Regions from separate parts of the Homo sapiens genome. Here region 1 is linked to region 2. Evidence: fine-mapped expression QTL. A gene starts in region 2. The other region holds a variant in brackets. All regions are shown on one strand. Distances are between the middles of the regions.

Region 1 (9,217 bases), 44 kb after region 2:
CCAAAGTGCTGGGATTACAGGTGTGAGCCACCACACCTGTCCAAGAGAGTTTAAATTAACCCTCAAAAGAAACATTCAGGTGTTGGATTATACTCATCCTCTAACACCAGCTCAATCATTCACAATGGGTCAGTTAATGACAAACATTCTCTCTTAATAGCTCACCATCCTTGAGATTACCTAATGTCTGTTCCTACTGGTTGACTCTACACTGATCACTCACCTTTAACCCCAGGAGAAGCCCAGTTCAGGCTGCCTCAGCCCCAGGTTCTTTCTTCTGCAAGCCCTTGATCACTCTGACTAGTCCCTTCTCCATTTTTGGCACCCCACATCTTACTCTCCTTCCTCAGGGAAAATTCTTCTGACCCCTAGATCCAATGAGATATTTCCTCCATGCTACAGAAACTCAAAGCCTCATTTTTTGTAGCAATTATTATAATTGGAAGTGAATGATTTACAGACAAATTGGCCACCTGAGTCCCCTGATAGGGTGTAATATTTAGAATGGGGACCACGACTTGTTCATCACTGTGTCTCCAGCTCTTAGCACGATAGTTCTTAGCTCAAAGAGAATGTATAAATTCCTGTCTGTTTCCTAAAGCTGTGGGATAGCATCACAGAGTGCGTGGGTAGGATTATGTGTAGCCATAATCTTCAGAAAAGAAGGAGCATTCTAGCAGGAGATGATGGATGAATCTGTCATGACTTAAATAGGTAAGTGATCCTGGAGATTGTCTGCACTTGGTTCACACTGTGACAATTTCACTATCTGTCATGGGGACCTGTGTCTTGGTTGCTGGGTCTCTGAACATTGACAAAAGGCTGCATTCTGTATCCATGACCTTCCCTCTGCAATCAAAGTAAATGATGAGGGATAAAAGGGGAAGGGGATGAGGAGTGAAGATGATCAAGCTGAAGGGAGGCTTATTATTTATCCAAACCGTGGAATAGGAGGCCTCCACAACATCCAAAATGTATTCTTCCCTTCAAGAGACATGTAATACACACCAGCAGTCATCAGAGAGCGCCATTGCTGTATTAATAATCCAAAACATTCGGAAATGGCTGTGCGGAACATTGTTTTAACTTTGGCTTAGGTAGTAATCTGGTTTTCAGGTATCCTTCACGTAGCAAATTGTTGTTGCTTCTCAGTATTAAAACTTGTCTGTAATAAGTTGCCCGACCCCAAAGAATTACGCATTTTAGGTGCTGGAATATTTTTTGTTGAAGGCCACATGAAAAAGTAGAACTTCCCCAAGCCCAAATCTAGACCTCACTGAAACTGGAAAAGAAATGAGATCTATCATTTGCCAAGGGAGATATAAGAAAGTAGTCACATGTATGGACTTTTTGCATCAGGTGACACTGGATTGGAATCCCAGCTGGCAAAGCTGGATCATCCCTCTGAACCTTAGTTTCCCCAGGACAGTGGAGAGGCTTAAGTGCCATTTCGGCAATCCATTTTAGCACAATTCCTGGTCTTTAGCAAATGTTTAATAACATATTATCATCATGAATTTACATTTGGGTCAGGAGGTGATTTAATTAACTTCTATTTCTCCTCTTAGCCTCTAAATTCCACAAAGGCAGGGATTGTCCATTTCAACCATCATTGCATCCCTAGCACCAAGAACAGTGCCTGGGACATCAGGCTCTCCACAAATATATGACGGATGAATGAAAAACAATAAAGGATGAGTGAATGGGAAATTTACTCTTCTAGGTATAGGATAAGGCCATTTAAGACTTTTGATAATGCCCTGGACCAAATGTCAGAATATAGTCAATATTCAGAGGGGTCAAGTACAATCTAGGAATCTGTCCATAATATATGACTAAACTGGACTAAGAGTCTGGGGCTTGGAGCAGGCCCAAGGTTAGAAGATAATCTGGGAGTTGCCTTGGTAACCTTCCGACCTTCTAATCGAAGATCCTGGTCCTGAAGCGAGAGCATTCCAGAGCCCTAAGACTGAGCCCAGGGCTGCATTTAGACACCAAAGCTGCTTGGGGTAGACTAGTTATTGGTCCTTCTTTGTGATCATGAGGTGGCTCTTTTTCTTCTTACCTATGTTTATTCATCCAAGGAGTCTTGCCAATTCTTAGTCTGGACAGCTGTTCATTTCTTAATTAACAGCATCCAGAGTTTCTTGAGATTGCCTTGTCTATAGCATTTTGGCTACATCTGCACCATCTGATCCCTGCTTTTTTGTTGTTGTTGTTTGTTTCCTTTTGATGTTTTCCAGCATCTCTAATGATAGATTGGATCTGATACGCATTAAGAAGAAAAACAGGGGCCGGGCGCAGTGGCTCACGCCTGTAATCCCAGCACTTTGGGAGGCTGAGGCAGGCGGATCATGAGGTCAGGAGATCGAGACCATCCTGGCTAACACAGTGAAACCCCGTCTCTACCAAAAATACAAAAAATTAGCCGGGTGTGGCGGCGGGTGCCTGTAGTCCCAGCTACTCAGGAGGCTGAGGCAGGAGAATGGCGTGAACCTGGGAGGCGGAGTTGGCAGTGAGCTGAGATCGCGCCACTGCACTCCAGCCTGGGCGACAGAGCGAGACTCCGTCTCAAAAAAAAACAAACAAAAACAAAAACAACAAAAACAGGGCTTTAATACACAGGAATCCCCAGCACCAAGCAACACTACTAGCATCTCTCCAACCAAATACGCATCTTGGACAAGATTTCATGCTACAGTGTTTTTAACACATTGTCATGTCAAATTATTAGTAATAGAGGATGTATAGTGAAAGAGGAAACCTGATACAATACAGAGAAAAAGGTGAGACGTTTGGGTTTTGGGTTACGTTTGGATCCAGCCCCTCTGCTTATTGGCTGTGTGACCTAGGGCAATCCATTAGCCAGTCTGAGCCTCCATTTGCTCATCTGTAAAGTGGGGATAGTAATACCTGCCTTGAAGAACTGTCACAAAAATTAGAGACAATATCTGTGTAGAACCTGACACAGAGTAGGCCCTCAATAGCTAATAACTAATAATGTGGACTTGATACAACAACCCGATGTATTTAATTGTAGCCTATTATTGGGCAGAAGTCTTGGCTAATGTGTATCTAGAGTTAACACTAATAAATGTATTAGTTTGATAGTTTCAATCTTATGATGACGTAGGGATTGACTCAGCCAGTCTCTAAAGTGGTGGACTCAGTGAAGCCAAGTTCATGGCCAAATCCTGCATGCTACTGCTGCTGGGTCTGGATCCATCCTCTACCTCTGTCTTCACACTTGGTGTTCTCTAGCAACACTTCCTCTGCCCCCAGTTACTTCTAGTTGCCTACCCAATATCCATTTCCCCTAATTTATAAACAGGATCCAATTTTGTCTGGGGCTGCAGCACATCTGGCTAAAGTATATACATCTGTGATTTCCTTGTTGCTAAGAGTGACCGTAGGGCCCAGTTCTGGCTGAGGAGAGAGAAACTGAGGGTTTCTGGGAAAGCTTTGCCTTGCTGATAGAAGCACCACTCCTTCCTGCTGTAGCATCCTTCCTTCTTCCTGCAGGGAGGTTCAGCACTCAAGAACCAACACCCTGAGGGTTATTTGGGGCCATGTTACTAGTTCCGGCCAAAGAGTTGTGAGCAGAAGTGACTTGTGTCACTTCTAGGCCGGGCCATTTTCATACCAACATAAGACCTCCCAGAGCTCTCTTTCCACCTGCCGTGGTAACCAGGAAAATTTGAGATGATGGCTAATCTATCATCCTGGGCCTCAAAGTGAGGTGATGTGGAGCAGAGGCCCCAGATAACCCGACATGTAACATGAGTGAGAAAGAGACCTTTTGTTTTAAGCCACTGAGATTTGGAGTTGTTTTTGACTGTGGCGTAACCTAGCCTATCCTGCCTGATACAACCCTGAGCACATTCCTCCACTAACGCCATCACTTTTGGAATGACCAAATATGAAAGCTAATGAGTGAATAAATGCATGAGTGGATCAAATTTCTTCCCCAGGGCCCTGTGCCTTCAGATGATTTCTTTTTTTTTTCTTTTTTCTTTTTTTTTTTTTTTTTGCGACGGAGTCTCGCCCTGTCGCCCAGGCTGGAGGGCAGTGGTGTGATCTCGGCTCACTGCAAGCTCCGCCCCTCCAGGTTTAAGCAATTCTCTGCCTCAGCCTCTGGAGTAGCTGGGATTACAGGCGCGTGCCACCACGCCCGGCTAATATTTTGTATTTTTAGTAGAGAC[GGGGTTTCACCATCTT/G]GGCCAGGCTGGTCTTGAACTCCTGACCTCATGATCCACCCGCCTTGGCCTCCCAAAGTGCTGGGATTACAGGCGTAAGCCACCACACCCGGCCCAGATAATTTCTATGAGTGACTCAACCTAGTTTACTCTATAACTCTTTGAGACAGCTTAGGTCAGTCCTTCTTTAACTTTGGTGTTTGTTGAAATTCCCTGAGGACGTCGTCAAAACATACAGGTGCTCAGTCATCCTGCCAAACCCACAGAATGGATCTGTAGAGACAGGCCATAGCCGTTTACATTTTTAAGCAAGTTTTCAAGGGGGTTCTGAGAGTGGGCCAGGGTGGGGAACTGTTGTTTCTCTGGGTAGAAACATCAGATCCGTCAACGGAGCAGAAAGAGAGATTATTTTCGGCACGTGGGTTTCTCGAAATCATTTTCTCCTCAACTCCTACTCCCATCCTGCCTGCTTGTTTCTGGCTGGCCACTTCTGCCTAAAACTGAATACCTTTGGTAAAGATTTACTTGAATGCAAAAGTCAAGCTCTACGACCTTTGTTGGCAATGTATCCTCTCTGGCCTTTGCACCTCTTGCCTGTAAAAGAAAGGAGCTGAAACAGGGTGATCAGAAGAGTAGTAGATCTGTGAGAGACAACATTGAACAATCTAACAATTCCACTGCTGCCACGCATACAATACAGTGTGATGAGTGATTGTGCTACTTCTAAGATAATGAAGAATATATATATATATATATATATATATATATTTTTTTTTTTTTTTTTTTTTTTTTTTTTTTTGAGATGGAGTCTCACTCTGTCGCCCAGGCTGGAGTGCAGTGGCACAATCTCGGCTCACTGCAACCTCCACCTCCCGGGTTCAAATGATTCTCCTGCTTCAGCCTCCTGAGTAGCTGGGACTACAGGCACACACCACCACACCTGGCTAATTTTTGTATTTTTAGTAGAGACAAGGTTTCACTATATTGGCCAGGATGGTCTTGATCTCCTGACCTCGTGGTCCACCTGCCTCACCCTCCCAAAGTACTAGGATTACAGACGTGAGCCACCGCACCCAGCCAATATGTATTATGTGTATACATTCACGTGTGCTGCACGCCCTGGGGCATAATGATGGGACAAAGTTTAAAGCTGCGGACAAATGTCTCCTTTGCTCCTGCCAATATTTATCTGCAATTGCATGTTTAGCGTTATTTGGAGAGAATATCTAAATCTGAGGACTCTGGACCGTGAGGCCCAGGGGAATAGCTCTCCTGCCATCCAATCTCATCCAAGGACTTCCCACATCCTGTGCCAAGAGAGCACAGGGAAGCCTAGCTCTGGGTGTCTGGGTGTGGCTCAGGTGTGGCTGGGTGTGGCTTAGGTACCACCTCTCTGTGGCCAGGCTGTGTCAGAGGCAAGCAGAAGTATCTGAGCTGATGCTCGTGGGAATCCCTTTCATTTCCGAGGGTTGAGCAGGCCCCAGCATGTGCTGGATGTTTCTGAAAATGCAGCTGAAATCCTAGAGATTCAGGGGATGGGGAGAGGAGAACAGCAGATGGTGCCAGCCAGGGGAAGGGAAGTAATATTTATTACGCACCTTCTACATACCTGGTCCTTACCCTCCTTACTCCCATCACCTCTAGTTGAGACAAAAGCTCTGCAAGGCAAACAGATGTTATTCCCATTTTACAGATGAGAAGACTAAGGGGCAGAGAAGGGACATCAGTTGCCTGGTGTTGAAGCCAGGGTTCAAACAAGACTGCCTGATACCTAAAGCCTGGGTTCCTCCTGCTATAACATATCAGGAGAATTGTGGCCTTCAGAGATAGGTCTGGGGTAGAATCCTGGCCCCACCACCAGGAGAGGTTCTCTCTCTTCTTGGAGCCTCTTTCCTTGTGTGTGACATGAGGACAATAATAGAACCTACATCACAGGGATGCTGTGAGAATTATATGAGACAATGCCTGGTAAGGGCCAGGCTCTAGACCATGCTCCCATGATGATTCTAGAAAGAAAAGGGACTCAGCTGTGGTGATTTGCTGTAGAGGGGAGGGGCCATGCCGGGGTGAGGAGGGACATGCGTATAGATTTTATGACTCCTGAGTTCAGAAAGCTTTCTCAGGGCACAGGTGGCTGTTGTTGAATGCAGCCAGCCTTCCCAGGGGCCAGGGCGAAGTCCCACAGAGATGTGTAATAGCTGAGTGGGCAGCATGGGAGGCATCTGATGTCGTGTCTGTCTCAGCATCAGGGTAGTGACGTCTCTACAGGATCTCCAGTGGTGTGATGTGGGTGTGGATCCTATCCCTGTAGTCTCTCAGCCTGAATCTCTGGCCTTCCCAGAGATCTTGAGAGTCACTCATATTCTATCCTGCATACCTTTGCTGCTTAAAGTTGCCAGAATTCATTTCTGTTACAACTAAGAACCTTTCCCGGGTAAGTAGGTGGAGGAAGGAGTGGCTCAGGGCCCCAGGAAGAAGGAAGAGTTTGAGCAAAAGCTCAGAGGCTTGAAGGGTATCAGTATATTCTGAAAAGGTGGGGCTGGTCCCATGAGCTGCGTGGAGGTTGCAGAGCATGTGTTTGAGATAGGGTGATGAAGTAGCCTGGGACCTCAAATGCTGCAATTTCAGAGATTGAATTTGACCTTGGAGTAAAGACAATGCTTTTCAATAGGGCAGGAGCAGCATAGTATACAAAATTTACGAAGATTCTTCTGGGACAGCACGGAAGTGTGAGTGGATGGGGTGACACTGGAGGCAGGGAGACCAGAGAGGGGGCTGCAGGGATCATCTCATGGGGCGGGTGTTGGCTAGGGCATCACTGCTCCTTGAGATCTGGCTCAGCCTGCTCACTGCCTCCCAACCTACCTCTCCCCATGGCCATCCTAGGTCCTGCAGAAGGCCAATCCTGACCCCCTCCATGATTTCTTCAAATTCTTCACCTCTGCATTGAAGTCCTGCCTCTACTGTATTCTTTTAAATTTAGGGGCTTTTATACGAATCTCAGCACCTGGATTATTTGGTACTGATTGACTTTCTGAAGGTATCAGAGGAGGGACTGATGTTTCAGCCACATTAAAAACAAATAAACAAGTGGCAAATTGTACTTTCAACCTTGTTCTTAGAGGACATTCCATGTCCCAAGGGACCCATAGTCAGCCTCCCACCCACTCACTATCCAGCTCACAGTGCCTCGCTTCCCCCGGATCTTCTTGGGGACACACCCTGGCCTGTCATCTCTCTGCAACCAAAACAAAGTGTGGGCCCAAGAAGCCTGTGGATATTCTAGGCATCCTGGCTCCTGCTGCCTGTCAGACAGTTACAAGAAGAGGATTTATTTCCAGAGGGAGCCTGGGGCTACAGTGAAGCACCCATCTTCCTTAGGAGACAGTGGCTCAGGAGCCTGTAGGCAGGAAAAAGGCTGCCTGCCTGAGCTCCAAGAGGCTGGGCTTGGCTCCCAGCTCCCCTTACTCTGGGCCCTCCAGTGCTTCATTCGTGGGCTGTGCTTCCAACATCTGCTGCTGCCACTTGCAGTTTGAGCAGAGTGTCTTCTGGGGCCACACCCAGAAGTAAGGGTTTCCTCTAGCCCCTAGGTGCTGCTAGATACATGTACAGTTCTCAGGGGCTCAACCAGGAATGAAACTCTGCTCTCCTACCTCCATTTCAGTGCTCTGTCTTCTGTTCCCTTTCCAGGTGGGCTTTGATTGGCAGGCCCCATTCAGTGGACCCTGGGCATTGTCAACACTACTTGCCAGATTTCCCCAGCTCTCTGCCCTCCAGATCTGAGGCAAGACGGCACTTGCTGGCCCCAAGGCAGGGCCATGTGACTAGGTCTGGCCAGTGAGCCATGCGTGGAAGTGACATATGTCACTTCTGGTTGGGAGCCTGTAATTGCTGCTCTAATCACCCCTTCCCAATGCCATGGTGACTGTGGGAAATATTTGAGATCAGGCGGCTCCAGCAGCCTGAGGTCTGAGTTAAGAAAGTCCTGGAATGGAGCCCCTTGCTGGACATGTAAGCGTGACCCAGAAATAACCCTTGGTTGTTTTTAAGCCCCTCAGATTTAAGATGTTTTTGTTACTACAGCATTACTGAGCCTAACCTGATTGATACGTGCACATTTGCCTGAGATTTGGTTACCTGGCATCTCAACTCTCAATGCCCTTCCTATTTGGGGGGAACTCTGTACCCCCTGAGGCTTGTTAGGTGGCAGAGCCTTCCTATGGGTAGAGAAAATACCAGATACCCACTTTCCCAGCCTCCTTTGCAGCTCTGTGCACAGCCATGGCCAGAAGGGACAGTGCTCCAGCTGCAATGACAGGGGCCCTGTGTTTGTAGCAGCTGCAGCAATGATGTCACTGGACTGGTTCTGGAGCAAGAGTTTTGTTTGTGATTCTGGCTGCGAGACCGCCCTTTTTCTTACCTATTTCCTGAGCCTAGTTCTTCAGTCTTCCTGTCAATTCCGTGAGCTACCTAGAATCTTTCAATGAATTCCCTTTCAGCTTAAATCACCCAGAATACATTTATGTTGCTTGCAACTAAGAGCCTTGGAGCAGTACTGCCAGTTAGAGGTCAATGTGAAGCTGGAAGGGAGGGCAGAAACTGGCAAGATGCACCTGCCTTCCCTTGCTTTTCTCAAACTTGCTTCTCCAGGGGCAGGCCTTGTATATCTTAGCCCAGTGCAAGCAAGGGTCTTCTGGTCAGACTTGGTCACCTTTTGGGCATGTGAGCCTCACTTCCCTTATCTGTAGAATAGAGTGACTAAAAGACCTTATTTTTAGGGTGGATATGAGGAAGGCATTTGAAAGAGAATGTATTTGAGAGAGTTCCAGGAATGATAAAACAAGACCCCCAGTACAAGTTTACCATGTTATTATTGTCAAGTGTTAGCTTGCATGAGTATATCCAGCTGTGGAATCGCAGTTGGCATAACAAGGTAAAGTGGCATCTTGAGACCCTTCCTAATGTCACTCTGTCACTCAGCTCTTTGGAGGTTACAGTTCATTCCTCTTCATTCAGACCCA
Region 2 (15,924 bases):
TTTGGGGATGACTTGGGGTTATTTGCCCATTCAGCCTCTGCCCTCCGCTAACCCTGGAGGTGAAGGGCTGGGGCGGGTCAGGGACACACGTGATGCGGGGAACCTGCCCCAGAACAGGGTCAGCTGCAGTTGTGCAGCTCCTGGCCCAGTCGCCTTCCTTCGTGACATGCCACCTGCGGCCTCGGCTCTCCTGCACACCTCCTTTCCTTCCTGTCCCGTGAGGCCCTCACGGCCGTCCTTCCGTGACTGCATCATGACCCTGAATTCTGCTCTTGGACCCCAGGGCGTGCAGGCCTTTTGTAGAATACTCCAGACAGAGGAACTTCCAGATCAAGTGTTGAAACTCAAATTAGCCATAGCTCAGACGAACATGGAGGAGTGGGAAGACCTCAGCCCCTATGTAGGCAGAAAGACCTGGGTTTGGGGAGGTCACTGGTACCTCATACCTGGGCAACCTAGCATGGGCTCTTCATTTCTGAGAACTCTTTTCCCTACATGTTCTTCCTCCATAGGCTTGTAGAGGGGATTAAAACAGGGTGACCCCTGCAACCGCTTAGCCCAAAAGCCCAAAGCTGCTTCTCCCTACAACCTTCTCTTTAGTTTTCGTTTTCAGATTTTTCCTGATTATCCCCAATTTTATGAATAATAATTATAACACTTATTTGCTAGACACTGTACTAAGTACTTTATACATGTCTACTCTTTAAATACTTACCTTGACTTTTTTGCAGATAATCAAGTCAATGTGTAGGTACACTTTTGAAATTAGTAAGTGCCATGGTTTGGATGTCTGTCCCCTCCAGACCCCATGTTGAAATTTGATCCCCAATATTGGAGGTGGGGTGAATGGGAGGAGTTTAGGTCATGGGGGCAGATCCCTCTTGAATAGATTAATGCCCTCCCTTGGAGTGAATTCTTGCTTGGCTAATTCCTTCTAGAACTGGTTGTTAAAGAGCCTGGCATCCGGCTCCCCACTCACTTCCTCTCTCACTACGTTTTCTCTGCATACCAACTCCCCTTCACCTTCCGCCATGAATGGAAGGAGCCCATGGCCCTCCCCAGATGCAGATGCCCAACTGTGAACTTCTCCAGACATCAGAATCATGAGCCGAAGAAAGCTTTTTTCTTGGTAAATACCCAGGCTCAGGTATCACTCTACAGCAATACAACATGGACTAAGACAGTCAGTGTGCTCATGCAAATAGCATATCAACAGCCACCTGTGCACTTGATAAAAATGCACATTCTCAGGCTTCAGCCCACACCTGCTGAATCAGAAACTCTGAGGTGGGCCCAGCAATCTCTGTGCCCACATGACCTTCAGGTGACTCTGATATGCACCCAAGTTTAAGAACTATGGCCTAGTTTCCCCGTGTACTCAGCTACCCTATGTGATTAATACAGGCTGAGTATACCTTATCTGAAAGGCTTGGGACCTGAAGTGTTTCAGGCTTTGGATTTTCAGATTAGGGATGCTCAACCTGTAATTACTACTAATAATAGTAAACGCTTATTTGGCTCTTGCTATGTGCCAGGGGCTCTGCTAAGTGCTTTGACATGGAGTGTCTTCCTCATTCTCAAAGCATTTGATGAGGCTATTAAAGTCCTCATTTTACAAGCAAGAGAACAGGCACAGAAAGGTTGGGTGACTGTTTAAGGTCACACAGCCTCAAGCATATGCCTCCTTTTCCACAGTGGTTGTAATGATGACAGGGAGGCAGGCAACATTTTACATAATTTTTTAAAAATTTATTCCCAGAAAGCCTTGCAATCTCAAGGATTTTTTCTTAAAAATGGTAGTTGACCAGAAAATGTAATTGATGGGAACTGGCCCATTCTCAGGGCATCTGGATAATTTAGGTTTTCCTGTGGTCTAGGTGGCAAAGCCAGATGCCTGCAGGGCCAGGCAGGAGACATAACCCAGTGAGGTGGTGCCAGGGTGAGGACTGTGGTGAGCTGGAGAGTGTATGCCCAGTCCAGGGGGAGCAATGGCTGGCTCCACAGCTCTAGAGAGAGGGAGGTGTTGTCATGGGGGGATGTGGGTGTCTTTTACCTTATTTTGTAAGAAAAAAACCAACAGGAATCTGGGTGTTATATGAACTCTCCCAAGTTTAAAAAACTCAGTGTTAAACTCTCTGCATTCTGTTTTTTCAGACACCATGAAGGCTGAACAAAGGATATCTGGGGGCAAAATCTGACCCATGGGCTGCCCATTGCCACCTCTGGGCAGCCCTCCTTGATGGTGTGGAGTCCGCGGTCCGCATTGGTTAACTTAACTGTGCTTCCTCAGATCCAGTCTGGAATTAATTATTGAATTGTATGCATTTTCAATGCCATCCTCAAGCTAACAGCCAACTATGCGGGGGAATAAAACGGAGCAGAGAACCGAGTTGGGTTCCAGAGACCCCAGATTGTCTTCATTTGCAGTTGCCAGGTTCCCTGCAGCCCGGGTCTGTGGATTTCCCGCGGCTCAGCGCCCGCAGCTCAGGCTCCGTGGAGCCCGGCGGCATGGACGAGGCGTCGCGCGCGCCCTCTAGTGGAGAAAAAGGGTCACTGCCGAACGCCAGCTGCGGACCGTCGAGAGTTCCTTGGGCCATGGCTCCTGCCGGGAGCAGCAGCCCTGGGGCCGGGATCCAGGATGCAGAGGCGAGAAAATGAACTGCCCGGCCACCACGAAGACAACCCACCCCTTGCCAGTCACCCCTCAAACTACTGACAATGTCAACAACAATAATTATAACAATCATATTAATAAGTAGAATGACAAATATAATAATATTTAACAGTTTGTGATTTTCAGCCCACAAGGTTTCGCCTACTGTGTAGATTACTCGGGACTCTGCAGGCCAGTAGGCCATGTATAGATGGACAGAAAGAGGTTTGTTATCAGAAATGGGCTCACATGACTGAGGATACTGTGAAGTCCCACGACCTGCTGTTTGCAAGTAGGGGATCAGGGAAGCCAGTGGAGTAGGTCAGTCCAAGCCCAAAGGCCGAGAACCAGAGGAGCCGACGGCCCAGCTCAAGCAGAAAGAGTGGCACTCACCCTTCCTCTGCCTTTTGTTCTCTTCAGGCCCTCAGCAGATTGCAGGACGCCCCGACACAAGGAAGGGCGATCTTGACTCAGTCAGTCCACGGATGCACGCTAACCCCTTCCAGAAACACCCTCACAGACACACCTAGAAATAATGTGGGGTTTTTGGTGTTTTACTTTTAATTGCATTTATTTTAATGCCGGATGTATTTCCGCGTTGCCAGCTCCTGAGCATCTCTGAGCCCAATCAAGTTGACACATACAATTAACCATCACGCTGTGTCAGTTCAATCATTAAAAATACGCAACACTCAGCCGGGCGCGGTGACTCACGACTGTAATCCCAGCACTTTGGGAGGCTGAGGTGGGTGGATCACAAGGTCAGGAGTTCGAGACCAGCCTGGCCAACTGGTGAAACGCCGTCTCTAATAAAAATACAAAAAATTAGCTGGTCGTGGTGGCAGGCACCTGTAATCCCAGCTGCTCAGGAGGCTGAGGCAGGAGAATCGCTTGAACCCGAGAGGCAGAGGTTGCAGTGAGCCGAGATCACGCCATTTCAGTCCAGCTGGGAGACAGAGCAAGACTCCGTCTTGAGAACAAACAAACAAACAGACAGACAGACAAAAAAACACGCAACACTCTATTAACGCATGAATGTATTCTCACCGAACAAGATTCAAACAGTATGAATGAACATATTGCAAATGTTTTTAAGTGTTTTTGAAAACTTTCATTTTGAAACAATTTCAAACTTAGTTGAAAAGTTGCAAGGATGGCACAAAAACCTTCTATTAATACATAGCTTTTAGCAGGATTCCTCAGTTGTTAACAATTTGCCACATTTGCTTTATAATTTTTGCTCTGTCTCTACATACTTTTAAGATCTGAGCCATTTGAAATATAATGCCCCCTTATAATAGTTCCGTGGGTCTTTCCTAAAAACAAGTCATTATCTTCCATAATCCAGTACAGTTGTTCAAATCAAGAAAATTAACATGGATGCAATAGTATTATCTCATCTGCAGACCTTCTTCAAATTTCACCAATTGTCTCAATAATACCATCCTTTTTAGCATTTTTTTGGCTGATTCCCACTACAAACTATGAAAGCACAAATGTCTCTCCTCTGCCTTGCCCAGAGGTTCCTCTTTCAATCATAGGGGAGGTGCCGATAGGGTCTGTCTTTCATTTTTCTCAATGGAAGCACATTCCCCACTTCTCAATTTGCCTTGGGAGCTCTTATTTCAATCTCTTCTCAATCCTTCGAAGCAGGACTCCTCCCTAGCCATATTCTACACAGAAGGAAACAGAAACTCAGCGTGAGGACGGCTCCTGCCCTGCGACCTCAGGTCCCCCAGCTGCCTTGCTAAGAGTTGAACCGTGCCCCCAGCCCCTACCCTGATACATTTCAGCAAATTGATATGCAAGGCCCCTTTCCAGGCCCTGGGAACATGAAGAGGAAGTTGCTGATGGCTGTGCTCAAAGACTTCCCAGGCTAGTGCAAGGGACAGGAGAGGGCGGCCCTGCTGGAAGCTCAGTGAGGAGCCCTGCGGTGGGGAGTGGTTGAAGCCGTTAAGTCCTCTGGTGACCTATGGGTGTGGAGGCTGGACCAGAGGGCCTTAAGGGGTAGCCCTGCAGGTCCCAACCCCATTCTTGGTGGAAGTGTTGGCTGAGGTCTCTGGAGTTGAGTGGGGTGGCAGAACTGGGCACTCTCATGACAGGAGAGGGGGGATGGGCAGGAGAGGTGTTCAGAAAAGGAGTGCAGGGAGGGCGGAAGAGCCGCTGTGTGAGTTTCCCCCAGCCCCTTGAGCAGCTGTGGGCCTCCTGCCCAGTCCCCATGCTGGGACCGAGAGGGCAAAGCGTGCAGAGAAGGCTGCACACCCTGCAGCCTCAGCCAGCGCGTGATAGGGGAGCTCTGGGCAGGGACAAAGCTGCAGTCCCTGTCCCTGAATGTCGGGGCGGGGGGGGGCGGGGATAGAAAGGAGAAAATGGGGCAGAGAGAAAAGAAAGCGGTGGCGTGCACATGCCCAGGCCCTTTGCTCCACTTTCCATGCTATATGAGACACTTCCCAAAATTCACACTCCCTGGGACCCTGAGGATGGGGGCTGTATCAGAGGAATTAATTCAGTCACAGGAGGACAGGAGTCCAGCTCTGACTCAGTCCCAGTGGAGCATCGTAGAAAACCGACAACCAGTGTCCAAGGAGCCCACTTTGGTGTCTGATGGGTCACCAGGAAGAGTTTATTAGATTCCTGAAAATCATAAGTAAGCATCCCTGCTTTGTGGAATTTCAGTTGGTGAGTGACAATGCCAAGTATGCAATTTGTCCTTCAACTTTTCATTTATGCCACACCGCGTGCTGGGCTCTCTGCAGGTGCTGGTGAAACAGACATGAAAAGGCACAACCCCTGCCTCGGGATCTGGTGGCAAGATCAACAGGTAAACTGCAGGTCTGATACGGATTGACAGGTGCCACTCAGAGTGAGTACGGGTGGCAGAAACTCAGAGGGGTCCGCCTGCCCAGTCTGGGATTGGGAAAGGCATCTGATTAGTTTCTCATGGCTGTTGTAACAGATTACCACTACCTTAGTGGCTTAAAACAACATAAATGTATTCTCTTATGACACTGAAGGTCGTTAAGTGTGAAATCAGTTTCCCTGGCTATAGGTGTCATCTGAGCTGGTCTTTTCCGGAGGCTCCAGGGGAGAATCGCTTCCTGGCCCTGTTCAGCTTTGGGAGGCTGCCTGCATCCTTGCCTGCAGCCCCCTTCTCCTTCTTCAAAATGCACCCCTGCAACCTCTGCACCCAACATCACACGGCCTTCCCTGCTGCACTCAAATGCCCGTCAGCCTCCCTCATTATGGACACTTGTGATGACATTTAAGGCCCATCTGGATAATCTAGGACACTCTTGCCATCTCCACATCCTTACCCACACCTGCAAAGTTCCTTTTGTCATAGAAGGTAGCATTCCTGAGTTCCAGGGATTGGGACATGGACATTTTGTGGTGGGCATTAGTTGGCCTGCACAGCTGCCTAGAGCAGACATCTCTGCAGCGGCAGGCCAGAAGAGTGAGGGTGCTCCTGGGTGAGGGCCTTGGTGGAGTGGCAAAGGCAGGGAGGGAGAAAGCCTGGCATAGTCAGGGAAGGACAGATGAGCAGGAAAGGCTGGCAGGGGCCAGATCTCATAGGGTCTTGAAATCTCAGCTTAGTCCTGAAGGAATTGCGTCTTGCACAAAACCTAAACATTGAGTGAAGGCTGTTGTCTCAGCCAGGGCCCTAACAGGACACAGATGACACACTAAGATGGGTAACTGAAGTGTGGGTTGATAAAGACGCTGTCTGCAAAGGGGTGGACGGGGTTAGGGAAGCCAGCAGAGCATGGAGCATGCCTGGGACTGACACAGCTGTGAGGTGCTACTGTCTCTTTGGGGAGCTGTGCCTACCCCTAGACCCGAAGAGAGGAGGCCAGGGAGTGGCTATCAGAACCCAGAGAGGGTGGCTGTGTGGAGAAGCACATATGAGTCTGCAGTAAAGGGACACAGCCTACCTGTGGTAACCTGGCAGGGAAGGACCGGGGGTAACAGATGTCCAAGTCCATTCTTCCTGCCCTGTGAGGGCCTGCCCATGCTCCCATTGGCCAAACCCCACTTGAAGCCAGAGAGCAAGAGTGATTGTCCCCATGGCATGGCTGGGTGGGCACAGCAGGGAGGAGGAAGATGGGGTGGGGACAGAGACACCCAGCGCAGGTGTCACATGGGGAGTAGCACCACCAGATCATTGTGGAGAAAGATCACACTGGCCGTGATGTGGAGGGTGGACCCGAGTGGGACAGAGGAGGAGGTGGGGAGGTCAGGGCATTCCAAGTGATTTAAAAAGCACATTAAAAAATGCATTTCCCTAGTTAGGGGTCCATTTACCCGAAGAGGTATCTGGGATTGTTCTGCTCCCAGCTGTGTCTGGTAGAGTGGAATTCGTCCCAAAGTTGCTGTTATATATCACACCAAATGTCTCCCTTGCAAAGGTGCAGCGCCAGTAGAAGGCCTCAGGCAGGCTTGGTTGCAAACAACAGAAACCACTTGTATTGAGTTTAAGCAGAAATGGGATTTATCACTGGCTACTTGGGGGCCCCAGCATCTTTTGAATGACCTGGGAACTGGGCTCTAGAATATGGCCCAAACGTGCCACCTACTGCAGAGCAGCTCCAGGAAACAACACGGCAGCCTGCCCTGAGTAGGGCAACTGCAAAGGGGCTTCCAATGTCGCCTCCCCGCCAGGGTGGAGCCCATGGGACCTTGCTTCGTCCTGGAGCCCCTGGCTCTGAATCTGAGTCTGGTGCAGGTACATCTGTATGGTGAGTTTGGTCACATGCCTGCACCCTCCTGTCTGAGAAATAGAGTTTCTGGCTCCTCTAGACAGTCAGGGACTGAGGAGGCAGGAGCTCCCCAAAGAAAAGATGTTTGAAGCACTGGACAAGAAGAAAGCGGGACGAATGTTCATTACAGGTAAATAAAGGTAAATTACTTTAAAGCTCAGACCGTCAGGTATCCCAAGGAGAGACGGCATGCGTGTGAGTGTCATGTGTGTGAGTATCATGCATGTGAGTGGTTCCATCCTTAGGAAGAAAAACATGGGAGGAACCTGCAGTGTGCAGCCTCTGTCCAGACCCACCTGCTGAGGGGCCCAGGCACCCCAAAGTATACCCTAAATATGATCAGATCCAGGGAGCATTGTGACTGAGTTTTCAGGTTAGCCTCTGTGCAACCTGACTTCCCATGGGCAGGGTGGAGTGCTGGGAGCATTGATTCAATTCTTCCCTTGAGCACTCTTCACCCCCATCTCTCTCCAGAAATGTACCGAGAGTCTAACTGCTCTATACTCTGGGAGGAACACGAACATGATTCCACCTCAGTTCCAAGCTTTCTGAGAACCATCCTGGGAACCAGCAAGCATGACAACTCTCCACCTTCTGCATCAGTCACTTGCAAGGAGGCCAGTGGGCACAGTTCATGCTACTGAGTGAGATGGCGCCCAGAGGCCAAGGCCAAGGGCAGGGCTGCATTTTCTGGTTCTTTTATATTTGTAGCAAGATACTCTTAGTGGAAGAGCCCAATATCTGGGCTTGCCTAAAAGTCTCCTTAGCTAGATCATTCAATTTATGAGCTTTCCATCTTGTTGCAGTGTTGCTTAATTTCTGCCTCTCCATAACAAGAATCACCTTTCTTCCAGTCTCTAATGCATTGTTCTCACTTTCCTATAAACCCTCACCAACATTCTCCTCCCACTACTGGCTTCTCCAGTGCCCTTTAGGCTTTCTCTGACACTTTCTTCAAAGTCCTTTCAGCTTCTGCCCTCTGCTCAGTTCCAAAGACGCTCCCACATTGGTAGGTTTATGTTCCATCAGCACCCCACTTCTGGTACTAAGCTTTATATCAGCTATCTACTGTTAGGCAACAGCCAAAACTTAGTGACTTAAAACAGACACAAACATATATTATCTTTCACAGTCTCTGTGAGTCGGGAATTCAGGAACAGCTTAGCTGGGTGTTCTGGCTCCAGGTCTCTCATGAGGTTGCAGTCTAGATATGAGCTGGGACAGTGGTCATCTGAAGGCTGGAATGAGGCTGGAGGATCCACTTCCAAGGTGGCTGACTCAGATGGTTGGCAAGTTGGTGCCGGCTGCGGCAAAGGCCTTGTTTTCTCTCCAGGTGGACCTCTCCACAAGGCTACTTGAGCAGCCTCACAACATGGTAGCTGCTTCCCCAGGGCAAGTGATCCAAGAGCAAAGGTTGAAGTCACAATGCCCTTATGACTTAGCCTTGGATGTGACACACCATCACTTCTGCAGTATTCTACTGGTAACACTGACCAGCTCTGATTCAGTTTGAGAAAAGAGGACACAAAAGCATGAATAACAGGAGGTAAGTTTCACTGAGGGCCTGTGGATCATCTGGGAGCTGTCTACCACCAATAGTCAAAAGAAAAAATTAGGTATAAATATATGCATACGTGTGTGTATATATATATGTATGTATAATTTTAAAAATATATATTTATTATAAAAGTAATTAATATTATTTGTAGAAATTTAAAAAAAATTTAGAGTAGCAAAAATAAGACAGTAAAGATTACCCCATAATAGCTCCATGCAGAGAAAAATCATTATCAACATTTTGGGGTATATCTTATCAGCCTGAACTTTAAACATTTTTACAAAAATGGAATAATACTGGACAAAATCTTTCATGCTATCAATTTTTTCATTTACTAGTACAGTCAAAAACACAGTTTTATTGCATCTTTTTTCATGGTAACATTATATTCCTGCCAGTGATTAAGATGTAATTGATTTTTCCAATGCGCTATTACTGGACATGTAAAGGTTCTCAAATTGTTACATCATTAACAAAACTGGAATGACCATCTTCAGAGCTAACTTGCTGTCTTTATCCCTGATCTTTCCTTAGGATGGATATAGAATACCAGCATCAGCAAGTGTACACGATTTAAAGCACATTTGGTATCTATTACCAAGCTGCCCTTCAGAGAGGTTGTCTCGTTACACATTCCACAGCTGTGACTGAGAAACCGTCTTGTCGCATTTGACAATCCAGGTTACTATCTAAAAACTTGAGTTTGTAAGAGCAACACGCCATGAGATAATATTCGTGCAAATGTAACTGACAAAAGACTAACATCCCATAATACTAGAGCACCTACAAACCAAGAAGATAAACATCCCATTGGGAAAGTGTAAAAATATGAACATAAAGTTTACAGAAGAAAAAACACAAATGGCTCATAAACACACAAAAAGATGATATTGCTTCCTGGTAATTGGGGAAATGCAAACAAAAACTACAATGAAATATCGTGGTATCGTGTATCAAATTTGCAGAGCATAAAATAGATTACATTCGCAACCAGCAACTACAACCCAACCTTCAGCCTCACTGGACTTCTTGCCATTCCCCAAACCATATCCACGCCCCTCTCCACAGGCTGTTCCTTCTGCCTGCATGCCCTCGATGGCACCAAGGGGGATGGGCACACTAACACAACTGCTGGGAATGGGAAAGTTTCAACCTCTTGGGAATAAAATCTAACAGTATTTATTGGAATGTAACCTGTGCATACTCCACAGCTGGGCCACTACCCTGCAAGAACCCCTCTGGCTGCTGCACAAAGCTCTTCTCTGCATCCTTTTTTATACTAGTGGAACCCTGGACACAGCCTGCATATGGATCAAAAGGGCAGTGGTTATAAATATACTATGGTCCATCTCTAGGCTAGACTGTGATGCAGTGGTTAAAGCCAAGTATTGCAGAAGAGTGATTAAGCATTCGTGCTCCAAAGCCAGATAGCCTAGGTTTCAATCCCAGCTTTGCCACTTACTTGCTGTGTGATCTTGTGCAACTCACTTAGCCTTTCTGTGTCACAGTTTCTCCATCTGTATAACGGACGATAACACTAGCCCCTACCTCATAGGGTCATTGTGAAGAGTAAATGAAATTAATATTGCCTATGTCACAGAGTGATCCTCCTCAAAATCTATTAGATGAAAAAAGAAATTTCTAGAAATTATCTACATACATATTCTGATGGGATTTGTGTAAAGAATTTAACCAACAAACCCATATTACACACACATACACACACACTCACACAGACACACTCACACACACACACACGCACTCACGTGCGTAGAAGTAGATCTAGGAAGATCCATGACACACATGCGAGGCAGGTGAATGGGGACATTAAAAGGAGGACTTCCACGTTTAATTCTGAATGGTCTATTTTATTTGTGCAATTTTTAAAAATCAAAGCAATAAATCACTGTAAAAGAAACCTGCCAGGTTTTGAGTCTTACCATTCTACCCCGGGCTCACCCTTCTCTCTCATTGAATCTCAGGTGTCTTCGGGATCATTTAGTTTAGAAGAGGAAGAAATGTCCCTGGACCCCACCAGTTGAACACTAATGCTCCTTTGGGGATTGCGCCCTCACTGTCTCTCTAAGCATCTGTGGATTGGGGTCTTGTCCCTGCGGGCTCCTCCCGCCTACTCAGAGTGCGCCCTCTGGTGGTGATAACTTGCAGTACTGCGCGCCCACAGCACGTGTGGGGAAGGCGAAAAGCTTTGCTGATTCTCCCAGGGGCCTCAGCCCAGGAGCCCTGGGCTTTGACTCTGGGTCTAGTGCTAGTGGTGGTACCAGATCTCTGTCCCTTGTCGAGGAAGGACACTCTCTATTTGTTTTTAAGTTGTCTCTATCTAGGATTGTCAGATTTAGCAACTAAAAACACAGGATGCCTGGTTAAATTTGAATTTTAGAGAAATCACAAATAACTTTTAGTATGAGTATGTTGCATGACATCTACTAATTTTACACAACTCATACTTATATTAAACAAAATTATTTGTGGTTTCTCTCAGGCTTAAATTCCACTGGGCGCCTGTGTCTTATCTTGTGACTGTGGGAGGAGATCTGTTGGGAAGCGGGTAGGGGAGGTGGTGAGAAAGGAAGGGAGAAGGCCTGGGTATGGTGTGTGATGGAAGGGCACGATGGTTCAGGCGAGTCTTTGGTTGCAGGAGACTGTAAATGGCATCTGCTCTCCAGGCAGCTGGAGCTGTCAGGCTGTAGAACAATGCTGCTCAGCCCTGGGAGCTTTGAAAACCTGACGTGTGGGTCTGATTCCCACAGATTCTGATGTCATTGGTTTGGTGGCATTGGGGTGAGGGTAGGCTCTGGCATTTTTTAAAGCCCCAGGCAATTCAAATGTGCAGCCAAGGTTGAGGACCACTACTCTAGGGGATCTGCAGTGTGTGCATGTGTGCGTGTGAGTGTGCATGTGCGTGTGTGCGCATGTGCGTGTGTGCACCCACTCGTGTATCCCAGATGCCTTCAGCTTGCATATTCCCAAGTTCACCAGTCTGGGGTCCTTCCCGAGAGCCTCCCAGTCCACATGTTATGGAAAAGCCTTGGGCCCTTTCCAAGATGTTTCTAGATTCCCCCAGGGCTTATATTTTACTGGTCATCCCTGGCTCTGATTTCCTGTTCACACTGAGCACTCCCATCTCATTCCTTTCTTCCCCCGGGACTGTGTTTTCTTTCTGCCTGTCAACTTAATGCTGGTCTTTCAATGACCACCAGCAGCTCACAGCTGTCAAGTTTAGCAGATGTTTCCTGCAGGTCTGCAGTTAACAAGAGGTGTCATCCCCAAAGTAAATGATTCTACACTGAAGTCCCCATCTGGGCGGGGAACTCCTGCTAGGAGGAATTTATCACTGGCCATTTCCTCCTCCAATTCCCTCTGCCTCATTTTTACTTCTAGGCCCTCTCATTCTCTTTCAGAAATCACTTTGTCCCCTCCCAAAAAAACAAAGAAACAAAAACAGAAACAAACCCTTCTTCCTCTAGCAGTCAGCATGCAGCTGCTGATCAAGTTCCAAATTGCAGTTCCTTTCTTAATCAGAACAACTCAACTCATTTTTCCTATACCTCTCCTATGTGTCCAGGTATTTCCGAGAGTGATGCATGCTCCTTGGGAAGCATTGGGAATTCTGCACTTCTGGGCCAGCCAGCTCCAACTGCAGCCAATGTTTAAAAAATAGCATCTCTCCCTTCCTTCTATATGTACAGATCTTCAGGGATTTAGCAAATTCTCTTAAATAGCTAGAAGACCTTGCTGACTTCGATGCAAATATTCTGGCCAGAGAACTGAGGTCCTTGGATGAAACCCAATAATCAGAGGGGTCACAGTTTCCTTAGCCCAGGAGGAAGGCAGCTGGTGTCTCAGCAGATGTTCCTAAAGGCCTGGCTTTTTCCACATCTGTTCTGTGTGGTAGACAAGGAGAAGAGGAAGGGAGGAAGGGAACAGAGAGGAAGCAGAGAGAGCTGAAGATTAAAACAATACTGTACAGGTCCCCGCTAAAGATGGACTCTCTGGCTGCCAGGAAAGGACTGAGAGATAAATAGGAGGAGCATAAGAACCTGGGAGCTGGAGGCTGGTCCACCTCCCTCAGCTTCCAGGACCCAGAGGGAGGCAGGCACAGCCAGCCTTGGCCCTGTGGAACCAACACCTTCCAGCCAGGCTGCCAGGAAGCCAAATTCCAAATGTCTAAACTGTATTTTGCACTTTTCCACAAGGTGACCTGCAGCTGCTCTGATGGCCCCTAGGATTCTGTAGGGTACTGTGCAGTCCAGAAAACTTGACTTCCCAATTCTTCCCACTTAGCCAGCTGCCATTTCCTTCCCTCCTAACCACTTTCCTTCCTATTCTTTTCCCTCTGTATTTTCCCCCTTTGTTTTAAAAGTTCAACATGAAACTTTACTCTGTACACTCATCAGGTCAGCAAAAATTAGAAAGTCAGCTAATGCCAAGTGTTAGCTGGAGTAGGGGGGGAAGAGGAACCCTTGTTCTCTGCAAGGGAGTATGAGAAGGTGCAGCCACTCCGGAGGCTGTCTGATGGTGCTGGTTCAAGTCGACTGCGTAAGTCTTCTGCCCACAGCAATGCCACTCCTCGGTATGCGGCGCAGAGACACTTTTTGTCCAAAAGGGGCATGTGGGGAGGTGCTCATTCAGCATTGTTTCTGGCAGGGGCGTTGGCCACTCAGGCACCCATCCCTGGGGAAGACAGAAGTAAATGTGGTGGGTGTACACCTTGGAGAAGCATCTATCAGTCAGAAGCAAGGAAGGGGATGTCCACACAGATTTAGGTAGCTTACGTTAGACACTATGTTCAAATTCAAGGACGCACATCAGATACACAGAAAGGCTGCCTGTGGGGGAATTCGGACTGCAAGTGGAGAATGGGGACTGTAGTGGATTGAAGATGGTCCCAAATTCCTTGTCACTCCCTGCATGGAGAGGTGAGGTGGGGTGCCCTGGGCAGGCTTGTGACTACTTGACCAACAGAATACAGCAGAAGTGGTGCTTGTCAGTTTCCAGGCCTGGGCTTTTTAGAGGGTGGCAGTTCACTTCACCTCTCTTAGGACACTCTCTGGGAGCTTGAAGCTGCCATGTAATCAACTGCCCTAATACCACCAGGTTGCTGAAACCATGTTCAGGAGCTCTGTTTGTGGTCCTAGCTGAGCCCAGCCTTGCAGCCAGCCCCCACCAGCCAATGTCACCAGACATGTAAGTGAAGCCATCCTGGGATCTCTAGACCAGCCCAGCACACCTACAGGCTGATTACCATGGAGTGACCTCCGTTGGCACCACATTCATCAAGAGAATCAACCAGCTGAGTCCTGCAAATCCAAATCCACACAACTGTAATATGATAAAGTATCTAACTTTGGGGGTATATATTAGCCTGTTTTCATGCTGCTGATAAAGGCATACCTGAGACTGGGAAGAAAAAGAGGTTTAATGGACTTATAGTCCACATGGCTGGGGAGGTCACACAATCATGGTGGAAGGTGGGGAGGAGCAAGTCACATCTTACAAGGATGACAGCAGGCAAAGAGAGAGCTTGTGCAGGGGAACTCCTCTTTATAAAACCATCAGATCTCATGAGACTTACTCACTATCATGAGAACAGCACAAGAAAGACCCACCCCCATGATTCAATTCACTCCCACTGGGTCCCTCCCATGACATGTGGGAATTGTGGGAATTACAATTCAAGATGAGAGTTGGGTGGGGACACAGCCAAACCATATCATTCTGCCCCTGGACCTTCCCAAATCTCATGTCCTCACATTTCAAAACCAATCATGCCATCCCAACAGGCCCCCAAAGTCTTAACTCATTTCAGCATTAACTCAAAAGTCCACAGTCCAAAGTCTCATCTGAGAAAAGGCAAGTCCCTTCCACCTATAAGCCTGTAAAATAAAAAAAAAAAATTAGTTACTTCCTAGCTACAATGGGGGTACAGGCATTGAGTAAATACAGCCATTTCAAATGGGAGAAATTGGCCAAAACAAAGGGGCTACAGACTCCATGCAAGTCTGAAATCCAGTGGGGCAGTCAAATCCTACAGTTCCAAAATGATCTCCTTTGACTTCATGTCTCACATCCAGGTCATGCTGATGCAAGAGGTGGGTTCCCATGGTCTTGGGCAGCTTTGCTTCTGTGGCTTTGCAGGGTATAGCCTCCCTCCTGGCTGCTTTCATGGGCTGTTGAGTGCCTGCAGCCTTTCCAGGAGTATGGTGCAAGGTGTTGGTAGATCTACCATTCTGGGGTCTGGAGGACAATGGCCCTCTTCTCACAACTCCATTAGGCAGAGCCCCAGTAGGGACTCTGTGTGGGGGCTCTGACCCCACATTTCCCTTCTGCACTGCTGTAGCAGAGGTGCTCCATAAGAGCCCCGCCCCTTCAGCAAACTTCTACCTGGACATCCATGCATTTCCATGCATCCCCTGAAATCTAGGCAGAGGTTCCCAAACCTCAATTCTTGACTTCTGTGCACCTACAGGCACAACACCACATAGAAGCTGCCAAGGCTTGGGGCTTCCACCCTCTGAAGCAACAGGCTGAGCTGTACCTTGGCCCTTTTAGTCATGGCTGGAGCAGCTGGGACACAGGGCATCAAGTCCCTAGACTGCACACAGCAGAGGGACCCTGGACCTGGCCCACAAAACCATTTTTTCCTCTTAAACCTCTGGGCCTGTGATGAGAAGGGCTGCCACAAAGGTCTCTGACATGACCTAGAAATATTTTCCTCATTGTCTTGGCGATTAACATTCGGGTCCTCATTCGTTACTTATGCAAATAAATTTCTGCAGCCAACTTTAATTTCTCCTCAAAAAATGGGATTTTATTTTATATTGCATTGTCAGGCTGTAAATTTTCCAAACTTTTATGCTCTGTTTCCCTTTTAAAACTGAATGCCTTTAACAGCACCCAAGTCACCTCTTGAATGCTTTGCTGCTTAGAAGTTTCTT

Which allele goes with the higher level. Alleles are on the strand shown, and positions count from the first base shown. SD is a standard deviation of normalised expression in the study named.
For the expression in visceral fat of the gene that starts at base 8,908 in region 2, G is the high allele of the variant in region 1 and GGGGTTTCACCATCTT is the other (small effect, 0.35 SD a copy in GTEx).

What was found.
Region 1: its variant is fine-mapped to the expression of LINC02995 in visceral fat (GTEx, PIP 0.91).

The regions. Positions count from the first base shown.
Region 1 is chr5:173,618,101-173,627,317 of GRCh38, forward strand. No RefSeq gene overlaps it. Among named protein-coding and RNA genes, the nearest start is that of BOD1, 6.1 kb to the left of the region's middle. The variant GGGGTTTCACCATCTT/G (reference allele first, on the strand shown) is at 4,203.
Region 2 is chr5:173,570,727-173,586,650 of GRCh38, forward strand. It overlaps LINC02995 (long intergenic non-protein coding RNA 2995), which reads left to right and starts at 8,908. Exons shown (of 4, transcript NR_027108.2): 1 at 8,908-8,956; 2 at 9,503-9,649; 3 at 12,552-13,182; 4 at 13,384-14,342.